Homo sapiens: one gene and its partners. The protein of the gene in region 5 interacts with the protein of the main gene of each other region in a biochemical or structural test. Each region holds a gene or a part of one and is shown on either strand. Other genes may lie near its edges. The genes, in order: SEC23B, FBXL4, FBXW2, GLMN, SKP1, SUGT1 and CAND1.

Region 1 (3,500 bases), on a different chromosome or scaffold from region 5:
GTATTTCATATAACCGATGTACATCTTCCCATACACTTTAAATCATCTTTAGATTACTTATAATATCTAATACAATGTAGAAACTATATAAATCGTTCTTGTGCTGTTTTTTTGGTTTTGTTTTTTGAGACAGAGTCTCACTCTGTCGTCCAGGCTGGAGTGCACTGGCTCGATCTTAGCTCACTGAAACCTCCACTTCCTGAGTTCAAGCGATTCTCCTGCCTCAGCCTCCCGAGCAGCTGGGATTACAGGTGTCTGCCACCATGCCCAGCTAATTTTTGTATTTTTAGTAGAGACAGGGTTTCGCTATGTTGGCCAGACTGGTCTTGAACTCCTGACCTCAGATGATCCGCCCACCTCGGCCTCCCAACGTGCTGGGATTACAGGCATGAACTACCACACCCGGCCTGTGCTGTATATTTTATTTGTATTATTTTTTATTATTATTTCAAAATTATTTTTAACCTGCAGTTGATTGAATCTGCAGAGGTGGAACCCGTGGATACAGAGGGCCAACTGTACTGATACCAAAGGTTCCAGTGGGAAGAGCAGCTGGTCATCCGGCTCTCAGTCTAGGACTATTACTGACAGCCTAGCACTTGCGTGCAAGTGGCTAGCAGACTGGGTGTTAACATGCTGAAAAAAGTTTAAAGTTATAAAATACTTAGGAGTATTAGAAAACTAACACTTCCTAAGTTACTGAAGGAATCCTGAAACACAATTTATATCTTTTCACGACATCAGAAATCATTTCTAATGGTTGGCCATTAGGAAACCAAATCAATAACCAATTTAAGAAGGTAGAGATCATACAATAGAAGAAAAAGCATCACTGAATATAAATATCACCATCATCTTCATTAAAGGATTTTTTGCCATAAAGATGCAAATAATTCAGAGGAGCCATTCCCTTTCTCAGGGCATGAACCCCACTGAGAAAGAAATGGACTGAAAGCTATCCACAGCCATCCTAGGGATCCACAGACACAGCGTAAAGTTCCCTGGGCCATGTTATTTCATCAAAGTACAACCTTAGCTCTAAACACTAACTCTGAAAGAACAGCAGTATGTATATAACTCTGAAAGAACAGCAGTATGTATAAAATATTTACTGAGGAGAAAAAACTAGTTTTGCCTAACTTCGAAGGTAATAATTTACAGTGATTTAAAATAACCACCTGAGATTTTTTTACAGCATATATTATTATTATTATTATTTATTTTTTGAGATGGAGTTTCACTCTGTTGACCAGGCTGGAATGCAGTGGTGTGATCTCAGCTCACTACAACCTCAACCTCCCGGGTTTAAGTGATTCTCCCATCTCAGCCTCCCAAGTAGATGGGACTACAGGTGTGTGCCACCACGCCTGGCTAACTTTTGTATTTTTAGTAGAGATGGGGTTTTGCCATGTTGGTCAGGCTGGTTTTGAACTCCTGACCTCAGGTGATCTGCCCACCTCAGCATCCCAAAGTGCTGGGATTACAGGTATAAGCCACTGCACCTGGCCCATACTTAACAGCAAATATGATTAAAATTAATAAATATACAAATACTCCAGGGATTTACTAGAATAAAAGCCATGGTGCTTTCTAAGCCCAAACTGTGGTTACAAATGTCATTAAAAACCTAACTTAATAAATAAGAGAAGAAAACAAAAACCATAGTTAAGGACAATAATTCTCCTTGTGTGCACATTAAATGTGTATGCCTTTTCTCCAATTTAAAAACAAAAAGAAATTAATTAATTAATAATATCATCTTACCTCACCAAGATAAATGACAATTTGAAAGAAAGTATCCATCAGCAAAATTCTGTCAGCTAGAATGCTGCTGCTATCCAAGAGTACTGGCTGAAGAAAAAGAGAGAGAAAGATGGCATTGGTCTTCCCTGCTCCCCACACAGCAACCACTTCCACCCGACCCTGATCCCATGCCTGGTATCCACAGCAAAGGCTATTTACAAATGGTGCCCAGCACAGTAAGTCACCCCTTTTCTTCCTGACATACTTCCACTTTCTGCTTCTGACTCATTCTCAACTTTGTAGGAAAAATAGGCTCCAAATAATTCCTCATCAATTGAGAACGGAGATTAATGATACCTTTTTTTTTTTTAAGAGTCAGGGTGTTGCTCTGTTACCCAGCCTGGAGTAAAGTGATGTGACCCTGGCTCACTGCAGCTTCGACCTCCTGGGCTCAAGTGACCCTCCCACCTCAGCCTCCTGAGTAGCTGAGGCTACAGGTGCATGCCACCACGCCCAACTAATTTTTTATTTTTTGTAAAGACAGGGTCTCACACTATGTTGTCCAGGCTTAATGATATCTTTTGATCTTGGAACGAAAAATAATTCTGAATATTCTCAGTTTTGTATGTATTTTAGCAATCTCTACAGACATTCTCTGTAGATGAGACAGAATACGGATACCTATATGAAAAGCAGCATTTAATACAAGTTTTTAAAGTTTACTACAAAATATAAATTATGGCTGGGCGTAGTGGCTCATGCCTGTAAACCTAGAACTTTGGGAGGCCAAGGCAGGCAGATCACTTGAACCCAGGAGTTCAAAGCCAGCCTGGGCAACATGGCAAAACCCCATCTCTACCAAAAACACAAAAAATTAGCCGGGCTGTAGTGGCACGTGCCTGTGGTCCCAGCTATTCAGGAGGCTGAAGTGGGAGGATCACCTGAACCTGGAAGGCGGAGGTTGCAGTGAGCCAAGATCGCACAACTGTACTCCAACCTGGGTGACAGACACCCCATCTCAAAAAAAAATACGTTTATTATTTATTTGTAAGTAATATTTTATATTATATAAGTATATAATTTATATTTATATATACATATATAATCATATACATATATATTTATATACATAGTTCTTATATATACATATATAATTTATTATATTTACATATACACATATAATTTTTATATATGTAATTATTTCTTTTTTATTTTTATTTTTTGAGAGGGAGTCTTGCTCTGTTGCCCAGGCTGGAATGCAGTGGCGCGATCTCAACTCACTGCAGCCTCCGCCTCCGGGGTTCAAGTGATTCTCCAGCCTCAGCCTCCCAAGTAGCTGGGATTATTGGCGCCATTCCAAGCTAATTTTTGTATGTTTAGTAGAGATGGGGTTTCGCCACATTGGCCAGGCTGGTCTCAAACTCCTGATGTCATGTGATCCCCCTGCTATTTTAGTAATTATTTCAATAATAAAAGTAAGTGGTACTCGATAAAGAAAATTTTTAAATGTGTACCCAAGTACAACAAATATTGATATTTTGTTTTTTTCCATATAGTTCTTTATTTTTGCAGGGAATATTTAGAAACGTTTCTATTTTGACTTTTTTTCATGTAACATTTTTACATAAGGACTTATCTATTTTATTATGTTACATACTTTTTGTGAATACTGTTGGCCCTCCGTATCGGTGGGTTCCACATCTATAAATTCAACCAATCTTGGACTGAAAATATTTGAAAAAAATATGCATCTGTAC
Region 2 (3,500 bases), on a different chromosome or scaffold from region 5:
TCCTCCTACATCAGCCTCCAGAGTAGTTGGGACTATAGGTTTGAGCAACCATACCTGGCTTCCTAATTTCATTAGGAATCTCCACTCCACCCCCAAATACACAGCCTTTAAAATTGATTATCCTTTAGAGGTAATTTTCCATGGGTCAACTCTGGAAAATGCTAACTTAAAATAATACAATTTCAATTATAAGCATATATATAATTCCAACAGTAAAGAGTCTATGGCCAGAGGCTTGATTTTCTAAGGAATGTTGCTCCAGTTTAAGGGGAGGTAAATAACAAGCAGAATAAGGTACATCTAAGCAAAGTTAAATGGTCCTTACCAATCTAAAGAGAGCAGGCTAGCAATAAGGAAGATCCAAGTGGCAGTAACTGGCTGGTTTGTTGTGACAGAAACTGCCATCAAATGTCATCGGGTCCATCAAGAAGAGTCACTGAAGAGACCCACAGAAGCCTATCAAATGGCTTACTATGGAAAGAATTTGACCAGAAGTGAGGAAAATCTAGTGGGCTCCCAAGACTGTTTCTAGAGACTGAGATGGCCTGAGCCCATACTTAGGGTTTAATAAGACCTAACCACAAGATTTTAAAGACCATGGGGACACAGAGATAAATATGTCATCAAAAGAGGCCTACTTAGTCTACACTGCCAAATCTTGAGGCATTTCTGAAGCCACACTGAGCTCTAAGAGGTGTTCAAATGGTACTCATTTTAGGTCAGGGACCCTGTCTATTGACTCTAATAAAATATTTCTCAAAATGTAAGGTTACTTAAAGCAAATACTCCCTAGCATACCAGAAGTTTTCTAGAATCTTGCAATCATTTTGCTAATTCAAGTCTTCCTACTAAGTGAATGCAAGGCAGAAATGGAATGGTCTGGGGATCTCCTAAACCTACATTGTTTTAGGGAACAGGGGATGAAGTGAGGAGGAATGAATTCTTCCAGTCAGTTACACTGGAAGATTCACTTACGGTATGTGTGCACACAAACACACACATGCACACCTTCTCCACACAAGATTTCTATTGTCCTTTATATCTCAGTATTATTTAAAAGCTATATAATTATGTGGTTTAGATTAAAACATTTAACTCTTTCCATGAGCTCTTTCAAGGGCACATAAAATCGTATTTTAAATCTGGAAGGACTAGGCTGGGCGCAGTGGCTCACACCTGTAATCCCGGCAATTTGGGAGGCCGAGGCGGGCGGATCACAAGGTCAGGAGTTCAAGACCAGCCTACCCAATATGGTGAAACCCAAGACCAGCCTGCCCAATATGGTGAAACCCAAGACCAGCCTGACCAATAGGGTGAAACCCCATCTCTACTAAAAATACAAAAAAATTAGCCGGGCATAGTGGTACATCCCTGTAATCCCAGCTACTTGGGAGGTTGAGGCAGGAGAATTGCTTGAATCCGGGAGACGGAGATTGCAGTGAGTCAAGATCGCGCCGCTGCACTCCAGCCCGGGCAACAGAGCAAGACTCCATCTCAAAAAAAAAAAAAAAAAAAAAAAAATCTGGAAGGACTTTGAAGCTTATCTAGTCCAACAGTCCCTAGGCTTTTATATTTCACAGACCAGTAAAATTTCCACACACAAAAAAGAGTTCCAACATAGGGTGTTAATCTTTCTGTTTTGACCAGTAAGGACAGTAAAACAAACACAAAAACAAACAGATAAAATAAACCTATCTATTATCATTAAAATTTCAAGAAAAGTATCTCAGGATTTAAAAGCTAAAATGAGCTTAGTGAAAAACTTACTGAACTATCGGCATTTAGGTATGACTAACACCTTAGTTTGTGAAGAAACCTAGAGAGGTGATTAGCTTGTCGGAGACAACATCTGGCTTGAGGCAGAACTATACTCTATTCCACCACACTATACTTCTTTCCTTGCTCTCATGGATAAATAATGTCAGTGTTTCAAAGACATACTTTCCAATTTAAGAAAAATGTTTGAAAGCAAGGGACAAAGAAGAGAACCATAAATCTGAAAAACTGTGGGTGTGTGTGGGGTAGGGTGAGTCAGGATACATTTCACCCATAGGAAGAAAAAGAGAACAAGTAATTGAGTAGTATAAAGAATTCTCAAACACTTACCATGACACAACTGCCTAAACTGAGGTGCTGAAGCTCTGAACAGAAGTTCAAAATGCTGAGCAGTGCTGTTTGCTGCCATTAGGGACCACATCAGAGGCAAATATGGAAAGTGAATGAAAGTGAAACAAAGAGAAGAGGTCAATTAGACATTAAAGGCTGTCACTGCTTTTCCTGAAATGCAGCTCAAAAGCTAGGTTACAGAGTCCACAAATGCCATTTAATGAGTCCCCAGAGGCTCCACCATTGATTGGCTTGGAGTCAAGGTAATCATTACTAGTCTCCATGTAAGTAATCACTTTGTGTATGGTTTTGGATGCCCTAAAGATACCTATATTCCCTATGACCTCTCGGTTCATTTCCCAAAGGTAAGCAATTTGAAAGTCTGGCTACAATTGAACAACAAGACAAGCTAAACCACTCCTCCCTCCAAAAACAAAAACAAAAAGACAAAAAACCCGCAGCAGGCTGGTGACACTCCTGAAGAATGGCTGCAGCTCTGACATTCACTGATCAGCTGCAGCTTGATGGAACTGCCAATAGAGTCACCCCAAATCAGGATTGAGCTGGTGACTTTAATGTCAAAGGATTCTCTTTGCTGACAAGGATACCAACAACCATTGAGCACCTGTCAGTAGCAACATGCTGACTGAAATATATATAATATGTACTTTCTAGTCATGTTCCTGCCATTTAAGCCCATCTATCCTGTGCAATGAAAATGGTCTCACCACTAAAGAAACCCAAAGACTGCTACATAATCATGGCACCCTAAAATATTTTTTTAAAAAAGTCTGCTATGAAAAATTGTGAAAAACAAAATAATGCAAAATATTCAAATTTCTAATTTTTCTTTTATCAATTAAGGAGAAAACTATTCAAACTTACATGGCAAAATATCTTATACATTTTTAAATATATTTAAAAATTAAGATATTATACAACTTCTGTAAAAATCTGTTCCAAGTGATCAGAAACTAAAAACTATCAGTTGAGGGAAAGGTGAAGAATGTGTCAATGAAAATGTAAAACATTTGGTCAAATCCCAGATAAAGATTCTCATTGAGAAAATAAAGTAATAAAATATTTCTCAAATGTAAGGTTACTTAAAGCAAAAATAATAATAGTTACAATAGGCCACAGAGGACTATTATACTTAAGTCTAATTATTTCATTATTGAGCATTTCTTTGAATTTAAACAAAAAAAGTTTATATTGATTTTATACTTAAGTTTCAACATAACAACATTTATAAAACAATCCCATGTAGCTCTCAGAATGTTAACATTAGAAAGGGTATATTAAGATAATTTAATTTTCAGGTTCTTCACAATACTTAGCCATGTTAACTAATTAACAGACAGGAACATAACATTAGGTTTGTTTTTTTTTTAATT
Region 3 (2,971 bases), on a different chromosome or scaffold from region 5:
ACAGTTCAAATATAAACTTTATCTCATGCCCTCTAAATCACAACATACATCAAATTCGTGAAATATGAGTTGATTACTTTTTCCACATTGCTATAGATGTTGGATTGCTGACAGAACTATCTCTTCAACCTGAGCATTCTCATCAAGTATACTAAGTCTAAATCAGTGAAATATGCCTGTTCACAATCTGAGTACAAAGACACCAAAACATGAGCTTTTATCATCTGAATTACTAATTTTCCAGGGTTGAATATTAAAAACACATATTTACTTGGGCACATTTATGAAGAGTAGAAGTAGCTGAATTCTTTAGGCTGCAATAATTAAGTGGGTTTACACTGGTCAGGATTGAATTACTAAATTTAAACAACTGAACTGTTCCAGGAAAGACAAGAAACACTGAAACATCCTAACAGCAAAACAGCTTTTTGCACTGAGCGTGACCATTCAGTCTGATTAGGCTGATGGGAATGGTGCAAAGACTACTCAGTAATCCATTTGAGGATTTATTCTGAAAAAAGTTTACTTTCCTAGAGCAGGCATGGGGAACCTTTGATCAGAAACACTGCCAAAGATGGCTAATGGGCATTGTGTCAAAAAAGTGAATCTGTTCTTTTCATCAGACATTCTGAGGACAGCATAATTCTCAAGTGTCTTGGTTGTCTAAACCAAGCGAAAGCACCAGCGTAACCAGGTAGGAGGGCTGTGTCAAGAAGACGGACCTAAAGGGCTTCTCCCCTATCCTGACAACTGTGTCCACAGGCAAAGGTGACAGTATGCCCTGCCCGGACTGCATCATGAGTAGCAATCTGATTCTGCTCGCTTCCCAACAGAGAAAGGCAAGTGGCTTCATACACCAAGGCCCAGAGGAAGAGGCACAGAAAGCTATAAAAGTGATGCTGGGGCCGGGCACAGCAGCTCACGCCTGTAATCCCGGCACTTTGGGAGGTAGAGGCGGGCAGAACACGAGGTCAAGAAATCAAGACCATCCTGGCCAACATAGTGAAACCTCGTCTCTACTAAAAATACAAAAATAGCTGGGCGTGGTGGCACGCGCCTGTAGTCTCAGCTACTCAGGAGGCTGAGGCAGGAGAATCGCTTGAACCCAGGAGGCTGAGGTTGCAGTAAGCCGAGATCACGCCACTGCACTCCAGCCTGGGGATAGAGCAAGACTCTGTCTCAAAAACATACAAAAAAAACAAAACAAAACAAAAAAAACAGTGATGTTGGTAGGATTCACCTCTAGGCAATCTGGAAGCCACACAGTAACAACTTCAAGTTGCCAGCTGGGTTTGGTCAAAGAAATGTGTAAAGCCAGGATCCACTATCCTTAGCTGATTCTGTTAGATCAAAATGCCTAATACAAACAATTTCCTCATGTCTAAAATACTGTTTCCGAAAGTTATTTCTTTTGTTTTACAAATAGAGAGCAGTAATCATTTTCCTATGAATACTAGAATGATTATATAATCCTCATTCAAACCTCACACCAAGTGTTTTCAACAGCCAGAACAGAGCAATTTTTAAACTACGAAAAATGAAGTGCAAACCTTACAATTTCATAGCAATGTTCCCCACGTTTCACTCATGAACAGCTATCCAATTGCATGCACCTTCCTGCAGAACTTCTTCCAAGTCCAGTCCTTCCACTGGAGGGGCTTTCTTCCTATTTCTCCAATAGGTCTAAAATGTCAGGTTACAGTCAGATTTGGCAATGTGTATTACTTCAAATGATTGAGCTGGAGGAAACTACATTCCTTTGGAATGATGACAGAATCTATCAGAAACTTCACACATCCACTCAGCTCTCCTGGATCCCTGTCCACACCATGAAGCCTGAAGTTGTTATGATGGCCTTTATGAACCTGAAAGAAGCCGCTGGCTTCCACCACACCACAGTGTCACCCAAGAAATCCAATCCTTGTAAGAAAGGATAGGGCTTATCTTCTCATGACTTAGAATTTTTCAGAAATGAGAATATTCACAAAAGAGGGAAAGGCAATTCCCTTACCTATGCGCTAAGGAAGCCAAAGTCAGTGTGTGCAAGAGCTAGCTCTCAAAGGCAATGAAAGGAGAGTAAAGAATAGTTTTAGTTATCCCCTATCCACTTCTCATTCTGACTCCCCACTTTGCTTTCTTTTGCAAAAAGGATGAGCTAGTTTTCCATTTTTATAAAAACTGGCGATAGTATGAATAAACCCAGCATCTATAAAGTAGTTGAATAAAATCTCAGGCCAAATAAAGGCCTCCATAAGGAAGAACTGACATTAGGACTCCAATTACTGCCTGAAGTTCTGCTGTCAAAATCCAGCTGCATGATGATGCCACTGTACTCCAGCCTGTATGACAGAGCAAGACTGCCTAGGAAAAAAAAAAAATTCCAGCGGCACCAAGTACCACCTTGATGACTTCTGTATTCACCACTAAAAACTGAAATAGAACATACTATATACAGCTTCAAGTTTGTCACTTTTTAATAAAACTTTTCCCACAAATGATTATAATTACTTGCCCTTTGAAGCTATTGGATAGATCTGAAAGTGAGGTAGGGTGGGGATGGTCATTAGATCAGTAATAGTTATCTGTTCAGGCTCGATAAAAAGTAAAAACTCGGCCAGGCGTGGTGGCTCACGCCTGTAATCCCAGCACTTTGGGAGGCCAAGGCAGGTGGATGACCTGAGGTCAGGAGTTCAAGACCAGCCTGGCCAACATGGTGGAACCCTGTCTCTACTAAAAATATAAAAATTAGTTGGGTGTCATGGCAGATGCTTGTAATCCCAGCTACTTAGGAGGCTGAGGCAGGAGAATCACTTGAACCCAGGAGGCGGAGGTTGCAGTGAGCCAAGATCGTGCCATTGCACTCCAGCCTGCGCAGTAAGAGCGAAACTCTGTCTCAAAAAAAAAAAAATAATAATAAAGTAAAAAGTCATTTACCATCATCATTGCCCAAAGTCTCCTGGGGCTTCTGCAA
Region 4 (3,500 bases), on a different chromosome or scaffold from region 5:
ATTTACATTGCTGTATGTTTTCCCATTCACACGGGGTAAAAGTTTTTCTAGGATACTGTTTTTCAAATTATTTTTGCCATGACTCTCAGTAAAAACTAGGTTTTACATCACAACTCACACGTTTATTTATATAGTTGAAATAAAAGTTTTCCCTCAAATCCTTTCCATATAACACATTTAATCTTAATACTTTAATGTAGAAAAATGGAGAATAAACAATTCAAAAGTAAACATCAGAAAGATTTTTACATAATCAGTGTGCTTGCCTGTTCATGAGGTAATTTCAGTCTAATTCACTATTGAGCCTAGTTCTTTTCTTTTTATTATTTTTCAAAGTCAGGTTTGTTGAGATATTGTTTACATACAGTAAAATATAACCTTCTAGCTATACAATTCTGAGCTTTGACAAAGATATATAGTGATATAAAGTCATGTAACCACTGCTGCTGTAAAGATATTCCCATGACCCAGAAATTTCTTTGTGCCCCTTTGTAGTCAGTTTCCTCCCACCTCCAGCAACCAGCAATCTGATTTTTGTTAAGGTAATTTTTGCCTTTTCCAGAATGCCATAAGTGGAATTAAAACTCTTTGTGGCAGAAATTGACAAAATTCTAAAATTTATACAGAAAAGGTAAAGGATTTAAAAATAGCCAATACAATTTTGAAAAAGAAGAACAAAGTTGGCAGACTCACATTACTTGAGGTCAAGACTTCCTATAAAGGAATAAAACAGAATAATTTCTTCCTATAAAGGAATCAAGACAGTGTGGTATTGGTAAAAGAATAGATACAGGTAAATGGAATAGAGTCCAAAAATAGACCCATACTTATAAAATGATTTTTGATAAAGTTGCCAAGATAATTCAGTAAATTAAGGATAACCTTTTCTACAAATAGTGTTGAGGTCAAAATAAAAGAAAAAAAAATCTCTCAACCCATATCTCATATCATAAAAAGTTTACTTGAAATGGGGTCATTGACCTAAGTGTAAAACCTAAAACTATACAATTTCTACAAGAAATTACCTTTGTGATCTGGGTTAACAAAGACTTCTTAGAACCCATAAATAATGAATCATAAAAGAATAAAATTGATAAGTTGGACTCCATAAATATTAAAATTTCTGTTCTTTGAAAAATACTATTAAAACACAAGCCACAGACTGGAATATTTGCAAAAATATAACCAAAGAATTTGTATCCATGAAAAACTTTCCTCTTGTAGAAGTTCTAAGTTGAAAATTTTTTTCTTTCATCCTTTCAGTTTTACTTTGTAATGGAAATTCTTTTAAATCTGATTCCCAAAACTTTTTTTTTTTTTTTTAAGATGGTGTCTTCTTGCTCTGTTGCCCAGGCTGGAGTGCAGAGGCATGATCTGAGCTCACTGCAGCCTCCACCTACTGGGTTCAAGCAATTCTCCTGCCTCAGCCTCCAGAGTAGCTGGGATTATAAGCGTCTGCCACCATGCCCAGCTAATTTTTTTGTAGTTTTAGTAGAGATGGGGTTTCGCCATGTTGGACTGGCTGGTCTCTAACTCCTAACCTCAGGTGATCTGCCCGCCTCAGCCTCCCAAAGTGCTGGGATTACAGTGATAAAGTTTTATAATCATTCATTGGTACAAATATACAATTAAGCTTCACTAATTCTCTTCAGCCAAAAATTTTAACCAAATTACTAAATCAGGACTTTAAAAAGCAAATGTATCTCTAACCAAACGTTTTCTTTTAATGTTTCAAATTTCTCAAATGGAAATAATCACATATTAATAAAGAGTACTGGCCCAGCGCAGTAGCTCATGCCTGTAATCCCAGATGGGAGGATCACCTGAGTACAGGAGGTTGTTATTGCAATGTGCCGTGATTGCGCCACTGCACTCCAGCCTGGGCTATAGAGTGAGACCCCAACTCAAAAGGAAAAAAAAATTAATATAAATTTAAATAGTCACATGTGTCTACTGTCTACTGTATTGGACAGTGCAAATCTAGATCTTTGAATGTTAAAACCTTAGCTGTTTTCAATGGCAATAGCCCATAATCATAAAACTTCAGGTAATAAAAACACATGCCAAAAGTAGCCTAAAGAAATTTTTTACATATTCTGTTCAGCATAATTCCACAAATTTTTCAGATGATAAACTGTAATATTTTTAGAAGCATGTAGGAGTGAAGAAGCTGTGAGAATAAGAATATTTTTTCTCTCAAGGTTACCAGATCGTTTTTAAAGAAATAATAAATACTACAAAGAAAATCACATTTTAAGATTTCTTAAAATCTTTCAGTGTCTAGAAAAAGTAAATTAAGAGTTTTAAAATAGTTATAATTAAAAATTTGAAATGTTCACAAATACCTGCTTTTAATTTCATACCCAAGGAGGCTTACTGATTTCCAGTTCTAAGGCTTAAAACTATACATTTCAAAATTCACTGTAGCATATCTCTCTCACAAAAGGAAGACTAGGCAGTTCTACACTACAATGAAATTTATTGCCAGAACAGTCAGGAACCCTGCAAAGAATACAGTCAGTGATGGTAATGAAGAAATAAAAAGCCATGAACAAGACCCAGGTTTCCCCTTTCTTCTAATTCATATAGAAGTCATCCGGCTCTGCAAATATTTCATGGATATGTTTTATCTTAGAGAAAGAAACAACTTACACAATATGCCCCTGTACCAAACCTGCACCCCTGAATCTTAAATAGAAATGGAAATTGAAAAAAAACTTAAGCTCTAGATTCCTCCTCTCTCTGGGCAGGGCATCTCTGAAAGAAAGGCAGCAGCTCCAGTCAGGGGCTTATAGATAAAACTTCCATCTCCCTGGGACAGAGCACCTTGGGGAAAGGGTGGCTGTGGGTGCAGCTTCAGCAGACAAACATTCCTGCCTGCCAGCTCTGAAGAGAGCAGCAGATCTCTCAGCACAGCGCTTGAGCTCTGCTAAGGGACAGACTGCTTCCTCAAATGGGTCCCTGACCCCTCGTGCTTCCTGATAGGGAGACACCTCCCAGCAGGGGTCAACAGCCACCTCATACAGGAGAGCTCCGGCTGGCATCTGGCGGGTGCCCCTCTGGGATGAAGCTTCCAGAGGAAGGAGCAGGCAGCAATCTTTGCTGTTCTGCAGCCTCCAATGGTGATACCCGGGCAAACAGGGTCTGGAGTGGACCCCCAGCAAACTGCAGCAGACCTGCAGAAGAGGGGCCTGACTGTTAGAAGGAAAACTAACAAACACAAAGCAATAGCATTAACGTCAACAAAAAGGATGACCCAAGCAAAAACTCCACCCAAAGGTCACCAACAGCAAAGACCAAAGGTAGAAATCCACGAAGACGAGGAAAAAGCAGCGGAAAAGGGCTGAAAATTCCAAGCACACGAACACCTCTTCTCCAAAGGATCACAACTCCTTGCCAGCAAGGGAACAAAACTGGACAGAGAATGAGTTTGATGAACTGACAGAAGTAGGCTTCAGAAGTTGAGTAATAACAAACTCCTCCAAGCTAAAGGAGCATGT
Region 5 (2,258 bases):
GCAGACCCTGGTTGTGTCAACTCCCCCAATCCCAACTTATTGTGATAACCTTGTTCCAAATCTCAAATCACCCTATGGGCATCTTTCAAATTCTGACTCCTGAGCTCTTCTCTAATAGTTTGGAGCTACTAACAAACCATTACTGGCAGTGAGCATCTGAAAATACTCAAAACGGCACCGAGTTTGAAAACAGGAAACATAGATGGTGGGGATGTTCACATACACAGTCCCTTAGAATAAAAGCCTAGCTCAGGTCAGGAAGGATTTTCAAGCTCTTAAAGATAGCATGGGATTAGGCATGTTAACTGGAAAGGGAAAACTTATGTCCTGGGGGTGGGAACTATACTATCACAAGCAGTCCTCACAAGTTAGGTCACTATTGGTAAGGGATGTTTCACTTCTGAAGACAAGATAGCAGCTGTGAATTATGCGGGAGATAGTCCAGGCCAATACTTCTTTCATATTCACCAGGGGCTCTGGACCAAGTCTTCCTTTTTCATTCAAGTGTTCTCATTCTTTTATCTGAAGCCTAGTTCTTTCAGGCATGTGCAATGTCAGGAAGCGGGGTGGGGCTTGGGGAGGGAAGAGGAAAAGCCAGGTTCCACTCACCAAAAATAAATAAATAAATAAATAAAAATTTTTACAAAGCCACTCTGGAAACCCTGCTTGAGTACTTGAGGATAGAGTACAGCTTCTCTATTTTCCCACCCCTTTCCGTAAGCTTCCTGGAACAGAAAAATCTGCAAAGCAACTGAAGAAGGCAGTTAGAGGTTGTGAAATGGTACATTCAGGAAAGAAAGGACAAATAAGAATTTTCACCAGATAGGTGGGAGGTATTCAAAGTGAGAGCACTTTAAGGAAATAAGCTGATCCTCAGTGTGCAATAAGAGGCTGCTATATAGCAGGTTGAAAATTTGAAGTTAAGAGATATCAGAAGGTCTGAATATACTTAAATACTTCCAGAAAATTTAAAGTTGACAGATATCAGAAGGTCGCAAGAACTACAGATGTGGAAGCAGACACTGTTATGAGCAACTACATTCCTCCCATAGAATGCTGCTCAATACTGGCACACAGACCAGAGGTAGCCAGCAGTACACAAGACTGCAAGGCAACAAGTACATTATCAATGAATTAGCCATCTATCACTCAAACTATGTCCCGCATTGGAAGTGTGTCAAGCAAGAGCACCTTCGACAACACTTTTCGGCCACCACTAATGATCATCTCCACTGATGCCTCAGCAGAAAGGATAACATTCAGCCAATCCTGCTTAGGTGTCCAAATGGCTCAATCTTGGGCCAAAGGACATGCTCTGAAATATTTCTTACACCATACTTCATCTTGATATGCACAGCCAGTTCTCTTACTCATTCTCTGTGACCACTGGAGGTAGTGATTTTTAACAACAGTAAACAAGAAAAAGTCATCAGGACTCTAACTGTAAAACCCCCAACATTCAAAAGACTGGTTTAGTTGAACAGCCAAAAAATAAATAAATAAAAATTAAAATTAAAAAAATTAGAATTTAGCTCACTCAAAAATTGCCCTGCCTAATGTGGGTCTGATGAATAAATGCTGATAAAATACTACTGAGTGTCAGCAAAGTACTGTGACTAATCCTGCCCTAATTTCTCTTTAGTCTATATTCTCAGGGAAATGTACCAACACCCAACCTTCTGCTGTTAGTTCCTGACTGTGCACTGCTTTTTCCTCACTTTGGCATCTGTCCACCCCCAAACAAATCCAACTTGATTCTTGAAACCAAATTAGTTTCACTTTACAAAACCTTTCGTAGCACCTTTCAGCTCTGTAGCCCCCCATTGGCTCATTAATCTGTTCTGTCCAGAAACTTTTTTTTTTTGAAACGGAGTCTCGCTCTGTCGCCAGGCTGGACTGCAGTCAGTGGCGTGATGTCGGCTCACTGCAACTTCCGCCTCCCGGGTTCAAGCGGTTCTCCTGCCTCAGCCTCCCGAGTTGCTGGGACTACAGGCATGTGCCACCACGCCCAGCTAATTTTTGTATTTTTAGTAGAGATGAGGTTTCACCATGTTGGCCAGGATGGTCTCGATCTCTTGACCTCGTGATCTGCACACCTCAGCCTCTGAAAATGTTGGGATTACAGGCGTGAGCCACCGTGCCCAGCCCAGGAACATTTTTATTAGAGTTATCCACTCCCTCCCAGCAGTATTTATGCCTTCTCTCCTGAACTACACCAAAAGCTCCCAGCTCCCTAGAGGGAAACCATGTCTAATGCT
Region 6 (3,500 bases), on a different chromosome or scaffold from region 5:
GGAGAAGAGTAGAAAACCAGGCTTCATTGTATATATAACCCTGTAAGAAACAGAACTTTGTGTTGAGGTCAATTTTAAGTATGTGCAATAACTAGGTAAGAATTTTTCTAGTGGACAAATTCACAGCACACTCAGAACTACAACCTAAGATTATATTTTATAGCAATAGCTTCATTAATGAGTGGAGGGAAATTTCTTTTTATTGGAAGTAATGGTCTGATTTAATGACTGAAACAAGCTAACATGTGTCTCAGCTTTTTCTGATTTTGACTGCTTTCTTCTGTAACAGAAAACACATTTCCTTGTGGCACCTTTTAGAAAACACTGAGTTATTCAACAGATCATTTGTGTGTGTGTTTGTGTGTGTGTGTATAGTTATTTCTTAAGAAATAATTTTGGATGTTTAGAAATTTCAAAAATAAGAGATTCTCATATAGCTTTCACCCAGTTTCCCCCATTGATAGTGTCTTAACTAGTCCAATGATTACCTCTTAAGTAGTCTGTGGTATAATTTTCAAAATCAGGGTATTAACACCAACAGATACTTTTTAAGGACTGAAGTATATCTAGTTGGTATTTAAGGTATTTAAGCATCTGCTTCACACTTTATTTGAAAGATGTATGTGTTTCTTTTAGGACTGACTCCAATAGATTTTGAGGCTGAGGTTTATATGTAGCTGAAAGCTTTAAAAAATATATAATCACTTTAAATGTAGTATCTTACTTAATTCTAACAGCCCTGCATAACAGGCAGCCCCTTAGTATTCCTCCCATTTTGCAGGCTCAGAAAAGTTAAGCTCAAGATTATCCCTCAGTTCTCATTGTCTAGGACTAAAATCTAGGTCTTCTCAGTTGGGTCCAGTTATTCTGTTAACCCGTTGTCTACTTGTTGCATACTGCTTGTTGTTGCATTTTCTAACAATGGAAACAGTCTTTGCCGACATGAGTATCTAGTAGTTATTTGATATTATAGTGAATGAGCAGGGAGGTTAGATTACTCATCTCTCAGTAGTTCATCTGCCATCTCCAGGTGTTAAAAGTTTTTCTGAGATTAAAGATCAAGGCTTTTTAGTGTTACAGTTACCATGTTTTTTCTAAACTCAACACCTTAGATATTCAAGATGATACTCTTCCTGTCCTGTTTTTGTAAGAAATTAATATACTTGTCAGATTCCTGTGTATTGCAAGCTGGAGACTGTAGATAAGGGCAAGTCACTTAACCTATCTGACCCAGCTTGCTTATCTACAAAATAGAGATTAAAACCTCTGTTCTCATCCTTCCTGGGAGTCAGCATTAGGATTAATTAAATCCATATTTCCCAGGCTCTTAACTTACCATGGCACGCATTTTTTGTTTTACCTGGCTACTAGTGAAAATGTACAAAGATAGAAGGATATCTAGTAGAAGGAAGGTGGATAGGATTTTCAAAACAATATATTTGGCCCTGAAAAAAAACTATGTGTTGGTGTTGTGTGTGTTGTTTTGTTTTGAGGAGGAATGGGCAGGGAGAAAGTCGGTTTACAAGTGAAGAGAAAGCGTAGAAAAACAGTGGATGTTAGTTTCTCAGCTATTTTGACAAAAGGGATGTAGAGAGCAGTATTGGGAGGAACATTTAGATTAGTACTAATGTGTCCTAATACATACTGATGGGGAAATTTTGAATTGGGTTTTTTGAAAACTGTAGCTCTTTTGTCCAACACAGTAGCTGCTAGCCACATGTTACCTGTTGAGCACTTGAAATATGACTAGTCTGCATTGAGATGATGTGCTATGTGAAATATATGCTACAGTTTGAAGAGTTAGTATGAAAAAAAGAATATAAAATATCTTCATTTTTTTTGTTGGTTTTTTTTTTTTTTTAAGAGAGAGTCTTGCTGTGTCACCCAGGCTGGAATGCAGTGGCACTGTCATGGCTCAGTGTAGCCTCAACCTCCTGGACTCAAGCAGTCCTCTACCCCAACCTTCCGAGTAGCTGGTACTGCAGGCATGTGCCACCACGCCCAGCTAATTATTATTATTTTTTTTTCATAGAGATGGGCTCTCACTATGTTGCCCAGGCTGGTCTCACACTTCTGGCCTCAAGCAATCCTCCTACTTGGCCTCCCAAAGTGCTGGGATTATAGGTGTGAGCCCCCATGCCCGGCCTCTGTTGGTTTCAAGTCAATATGATACTATATTTGATATATCAGGTTAAATAAAATGTATTATTAAACTGCATTTCACCTGATTCTTTTTAGTAATGTAGTTACTAGGAAGTTTTAAATTATATATGTGACTCACATTTGAGGCTGTCATTATATTTTCATTGGATAGTCAACAGAGCTGCTCCTATAGCTACTAGGTTGTCTAGTTATTTTCTAATTATTTGTGTGCCAAGATCTTGATGCCTTTGGTCTTTGGAGCAATCTTGGCAGTACCCCGAGCCCCTGGGCCAGTAGCCTCTCTCGCTGCAAGCAGCTCTGTTTACTCCAGTGTGCCCTACAAATACTATTATTTGCTAGGTGTATGGGATGTGGGCATTGAACTTTAGATCATCAAGTGTAGTACTTTAAACATTTAGAAATTACTTACTGTTATTGCCTATTAAAATAATCTTACTTTTTTGATGGGAGAGTATGGAGTGGCATGGATGATTATTTATATTTTCAGGCTATTTATACTCTGAAAGATACTAAGTACTTTAGAAAAAGTCACATTTTTAACATTTATTAAAATCTTAGTTACAAAAGATTTCTTAGGCATCCTTTAAAAAATTTCATTTTTAGAATTGTTCGTACTGTCTCTGCAACTTTTCTGAAAACATAAAAGTTCTGTATACTTTTCATCTAGTTTCTGTTATCAACATGAAGAATCTGCTTTTAATCTAATTTTGTATAGCATATCAAAAGTTTACACTTTATTGAGTTATTTTGCTCAAAAGAAATCCCCAGATTTTACATTATGGTAACTGACTCAGTTTTTAGAAATGTGAATTTTGTTATTGACCTATATACCAGAAAGACACTTATTGCATACCTGAAATTCAGTAACCTAAACTGTTTGCTAAGATGTTCCATATACATGGTCACAAAGTTTACATATTCTCGACATAATTGAAACATGTTGATTAATTACTTCTGCCTTTTTTTACTTCATAGATGTAAAGAACCTATATCCATCATCATCTCCTTATACAAGAAATTGGGATAAATTGGTTGGTGAGATCAAAGAAGAAGAAAAGAATGAAAAGTTGGAGGGAGATGCAGCTTTAAACAGATTATTTCAGCAGATCTATTCAGATGGTTCTGATGAAGTGAAACGTGCCATGAACAAATCCTTTGTAAGAATATAAACTTAAAGAAATATATATGGGAGCAAATTTTACATATTTTAAACGAGAAAATTGGTAATGTGAGACCAAATTGCGTGTACTATAGCTGGGAGAACTTTTTGAATAAGGTCTGTCTGAACGTTTCTTTTTGCTCTAAGAGTAATTTTTGAGGAAGTTGAAAACTTATGG
Region 7 (3,500 bases), on a different chromosome or scaffold from region 5:
ATTTACTCTTTTAGGTATGGTGCTAAGGGCACAGATCTCAATACATTTTATAAAACACTACTCAAGAGCATATGGAAATTATCACACCCAAGAGTTGACTGTTAGGTTGGATCTCAAAGGATGAACAGGGGTTTGCATGGGAAAAATTGGTTTGGAATTTAAATTACTTTTTTTTTTTTTTTTGGTGGTGGGGAAGGACAGAGCACCTCAGAGTGAAGGACTAAGGAAACAGTTCAGTATGTGGAGCACAGAAACCTAATAGGAAGATGATGGGAATATAGGCTGAGGTCAAAATGGGAATGGCGTTATATACTCATACACTGTGTAATAAGAACCTACTACATATCAGGTACTGTACTAGTTTTTGCTGATATAAGGGCTAACCAAAGCACACACAATTCTTGCTGTCTTGGAGCTTACATTGCAGTCTAGTAAAAGGCATATTAACTTTTTAAATTGCATGTATGAGTAAGCACCTGTAGAACTAAGAACTAAGATAAATGCTATGAAGGAAAGTGTTATCAAGAAAACACTATGGGGCCAGGTGCCAGTGGCTCACGCCTGTAATCCCAGCACTTTGGGAGGCCAAGGCAGGCAGATCTCCTGAGGTCAGGAGTTCGACACCAGCCTGGCCAACATGGTGAAACCCTGTCTCTACTAAAATTACAAAAATTAGCTGGGTGTGGTGGTGTACACCTGTAATCTCACCTACTTGGGAGGCTAAGGCAGGAGAATCGCTTGAACCTGGGACACAGAGGTTGCAGTGAGCCGAGATTGAGCCACTGCACTACAGCCTAGGTGACAGAGTGAGATTCATCCCAAAACAAGAAAGCACTATCATATAAACAAAGTAACATGACCTAGACTGAACTGCGGGTTGTGTCAGGAAAGACTGATCTGAAGAGTAGGAGCTGGGCATGGTGGCTCACACCTGTAATCCCAGCACTTTGGGAGACCTAGGCAGGTGGAGGTCAGGAGTTCCAAACCAGCCTGGACAACATGGTGAAACCCCGTCTCTACCAAAAATACAAAATTAGCCAGGCATGGTAGTACATGCCTGTAATCCCACCTATTTGGGAGGCTGAGGCAGGGGAAATGCTTGAACCTGGGCGGCAGTCGCTTGAAGCCGGGCAGTGGAGGTTGCAGTGAGTCAAGATCACGTCACTGCACCCCAGCCTGAGCAAAAGAGTGACACTCTGTCTCAAAAATAAATAAAGAGTAGGCAAAATTACGGTGAAGCAGGAGGAAGTTAGTGCCAGGTAAGCAAGGGCCAGGAATTTAAAGGATTTGTAGACCATATCAGGATTTTAGCCTTTATTCTAAGAGAGTGGGAAGCTACTGAAAAACAACTGGGTTACAGATGGGGAATAAATGCAATGATCAGATTTACATTTCAGAAACATTACTCCAGCTATACTGTGGACCATACTTTGGAGAGAACAAATCTTCATTTGGCCATACTGAATGGAGACTAGTTAGGAGAATGACTAAGTTAGAAATTATGATGGCCTGACTTAGGTTATGGCAATCAATGAAGATGGAAAAAAAAATGACATACAGTTGATTCTCATTATTCCCAGGTTCCATATTTGCAAATTCACCTACTCATTAACATTTATTTGTAAAGCAAAATTAATGCTTCCTATTTCACAGTCATTTGGATGAGTGTCGAGTGGTGAAAATTTTGAGTAATCCAACACATACATTCCCAGCTGTGGTGGCACAAAGCAACACTCTGCCTTCTAGCTCCAGCTCTCATGTTGTAAACAAGCATCTTCTTCTTGGCCTATTTCAGCCCATGTTTTTCACATGTTTGTGCTTTTTCTTGGCGCTCTTGTTGTTTAATATGGCCTCCAAGCACAGTGCTGAAATGCTGTCTAGCATTCCTAAGTGCAAGAAGGCTATAATGTGCCTTCTGAAAAAAACATATGTGTTAGATAAGCTTCTTTATTGGCTGTGAATTCAATGTTAATAAATCAGCAATATATATTAAGACAACTTTAAAAGAAACACTCATAAAACGAGGTTACAAACTCATCAACTGATTAAAATAATGTGACTCAGGACTCAGAGAAACTAATTCCATAATTCCCTCAGAAGCAATGGTTCAGTACTTGCTAACTCAGTGTTTGTGATAATGTTACAAAACATACTACAAATAATGAGAACTAGTTGGTTTGAATTTTACAAACTAAAATTAATAGTTCTTCAAAATGGATTAGATATAGGGATGGTAAGGATGAGCTAGCAGGAAAGAAGTAAAAGGAAAACCACAAGACTGGGTAATACAGTCAGCTAACATATCCTTGTCCAGAGTCTTAATGTTACCCTGCAGCCATTGTCACATCAGATGAATAAACTGCTCATCTTACAACAGAAGAAAGGATTAACTTTGGTTAAACTGCAAACTACATGGAATGGATATTCCTCTGATCTTAACAAAATCTCCGCCATAGTGAAGATGTGAAAATCAAAAATTAATGTCCTGCAGCCCAACTTTGTCTACCCTTGGCCAAAAGTGGGCACTGATAAAGAAAAAAACAGCAGCCTCCACATTCCAGAAACTTATCTGAGACTCATAACTAAACCTCAGTGTTATTACTAACCGATCTGATGCTTAACAGCTAAGGCATATTGTTTTCTTGGACATAAACAATCTCACAGAACATCCATTTCGGACAAGGTCCCTGAGCAATACAAAATACCAAACATTCCCCTCTCCAGTTAAATGAGTGACTGATACTTCTTTACCAACTACAGCTTTCCCCCTGCTTAGGTCAGCCCTCCCTGTAAAATTTATTAAGAGGCCGAATCATAGAATTGACCTCACTTTCTGACAACACTCAACCTAAAGCAAGGCTTCACTTCCTTAGACTCTTTCCCAAATTACCCAAATGAATAGGTTCCTTCTAACATCCTCTGATACCCTAAAGTGTGTGTTTTCCCTGACTATTACGGACAAAAACCCAACTCGTGTCAGGATGCCCATATAAGAGAATTCCAAGAAGGAAAAAGTGATTTAAAAAAATATACCAAATAGATGAGCAAAGAAAATATCCACTAAATGAGTTATATTAGGAGACTAGGGAGACTGTTGGGGATTTTAGGAGAGCAGTCTCTACGAATTCAGATGGGCAACAGCTAAGAAATCTGGAGTTTATCTTGTAGTCAATGGAAATTAGTGAGGGAGGCAATGATCAGCTGCAGTATATAGGAAGAAAATTCTAATGGCCAGAGGGAACAAACTGGGTTAGGAAGAGGCCTGAGACAGCAAGATTAATTTGAGAAATACTCATCAGGAGACTAAAGAAGACAGACGGGAGAAGGGTGATATCAAAGATTTTCTGCTTGTGACTTTCAGTGGATGGTAATTTAACAGGCCAAAATAAGGATAAAGAAGGCATTAAGACGGGAAAAGAAAAAGATAAATGTTTACGTTTCAGACTTCAATGGAATTCCCAGGTTGATATGACCTGTAGGCAGTGCCATCTCATTCCTTT

Evidence for each region.
Region 1: the proteins of SKP1 (region 5) and SEC23B interact in a test that uses a peptide from one of them, tested with the Homo sapiens proteins (one study listed by BioGRID).
Region 2: the proteins of SKP1 (region 5) and FBXL4 form a complex in vitro, tested with the Homo sapiens proteins (one study listed by BioGRID).
Region 3: the proteins of SKP1 (region 5) and FBXW2 form a complex in vitro, tested with the Homo sapiens proteins (2 studies listed by BioGRID).
Region 4: the proteins of SKP1 (region 5) and GLMN form a complex in vitro, tested with the Homo sapiens proteins (one study listed by BioGRID).
Region 6: the proteins of SKP1 (region 5) and SUGT1 form a complex in vitro, tested with the Homo sapiens proteins (2 studies listed by BioGRID and IntAct, with this or other methods).
Region 7: the proteins of SKP1 (region 5) and CAND1 form a complex in vitro, tested with the Homo sapiens proteins (one study listed by BioGRID).

The regions. Positions count from the first base shown.
Region 1 is NC_000020.11:18,549,440-18,552,939, reverse strand, and holds part of SEC23B (protein transport protein Sec23B), read right to left. Parts: intron 1,852-3,500; coding exon 1,765-1,851; intron 1-1,764. UniProt on the Homo sapiens protein: Component of the coat protein complex II (COPII) which promotes the formation of transport vesicles from the endoplasmic reticulum (ER).
Region 2 is NC_000006.12:98,878,447-98,881,946, forward strand, and holds part of FBXL4 (F-box/LRR-repeat protein 4), read right to left. Parts: intron 2,179-3,500; coding exon 2,107-2,178; intron 1-2,106. UniProt on the Homo sapiens protein: Substrate-recognition component of the mitochondria-localized SCF-FBXL4 ubiquitin E3 ligase complex that plays a role in the restriction of mitophagy by controlling the degradation of BNIP3 and NIX mitophagy receptors.
Region 3 is NC_000009.12:120,759,446-120,762,416, forward strand, and holds part of FBXW2 (F-box/WD repeat-containing protein 2), read right to left. Parts: 3' UTR 1-2,971. UniProt on the Homo sapiens protein: Substrate-recognition component of the SCF (SKP1-CUL1-F-box protein)-type E3 ubiquitin ligase complex.
Region 4 is NC_000001.11:92,250,488-92,253,987, forward strand, and holds part of GLMN (glomulin), read right to left. Parts: intron 1-3,500.
Region 5 is NC_000005.10:134,150,693-134,152,950, forward strand, and holds part of SKP1 (S-phase kinase-associated protein 1), read right to left. Parts: 3' UTR 1-2,258. UniProt on the Homo sapiens protein: Essential component of the SCF (SKP1-CUL1-F-box protein) ubiquitin ligase complex, which mediates the ubiquitination of proteins involved in cell cycle progression, signal transduction and transcription.
Region 6 is NC_000013.11:52,676,836-52,680,335, forward strand, and holds part of SUGT1 (protein SGT1 homolog), read left to right. Parts: intron 1-3,138; coding exon 3,139-3,320; intron 3,321-3,500. UniProt on the Homo sapiens protein: May play a role in ubiquitination and subsequent proteasomal degradation of target proteins.
Region 7 is NC_000012.12:67,275,858-67,279,357, reverse strand, and holds part of CAND1 (cullin-associated NEDD8-dissociated protein 1), read right to left. Parts: intron 1-3,500. UniProt on the Homo sapiens protein: Key assembly factor of SCF (SKP1-CUL1-F-box protein) E3 ubiquitin ligase complexes that promotes the exchange of the substrate-recognition F-box subunit in SCF complexes, thereby playing a key role in the cellular repertoire of SCF complexes.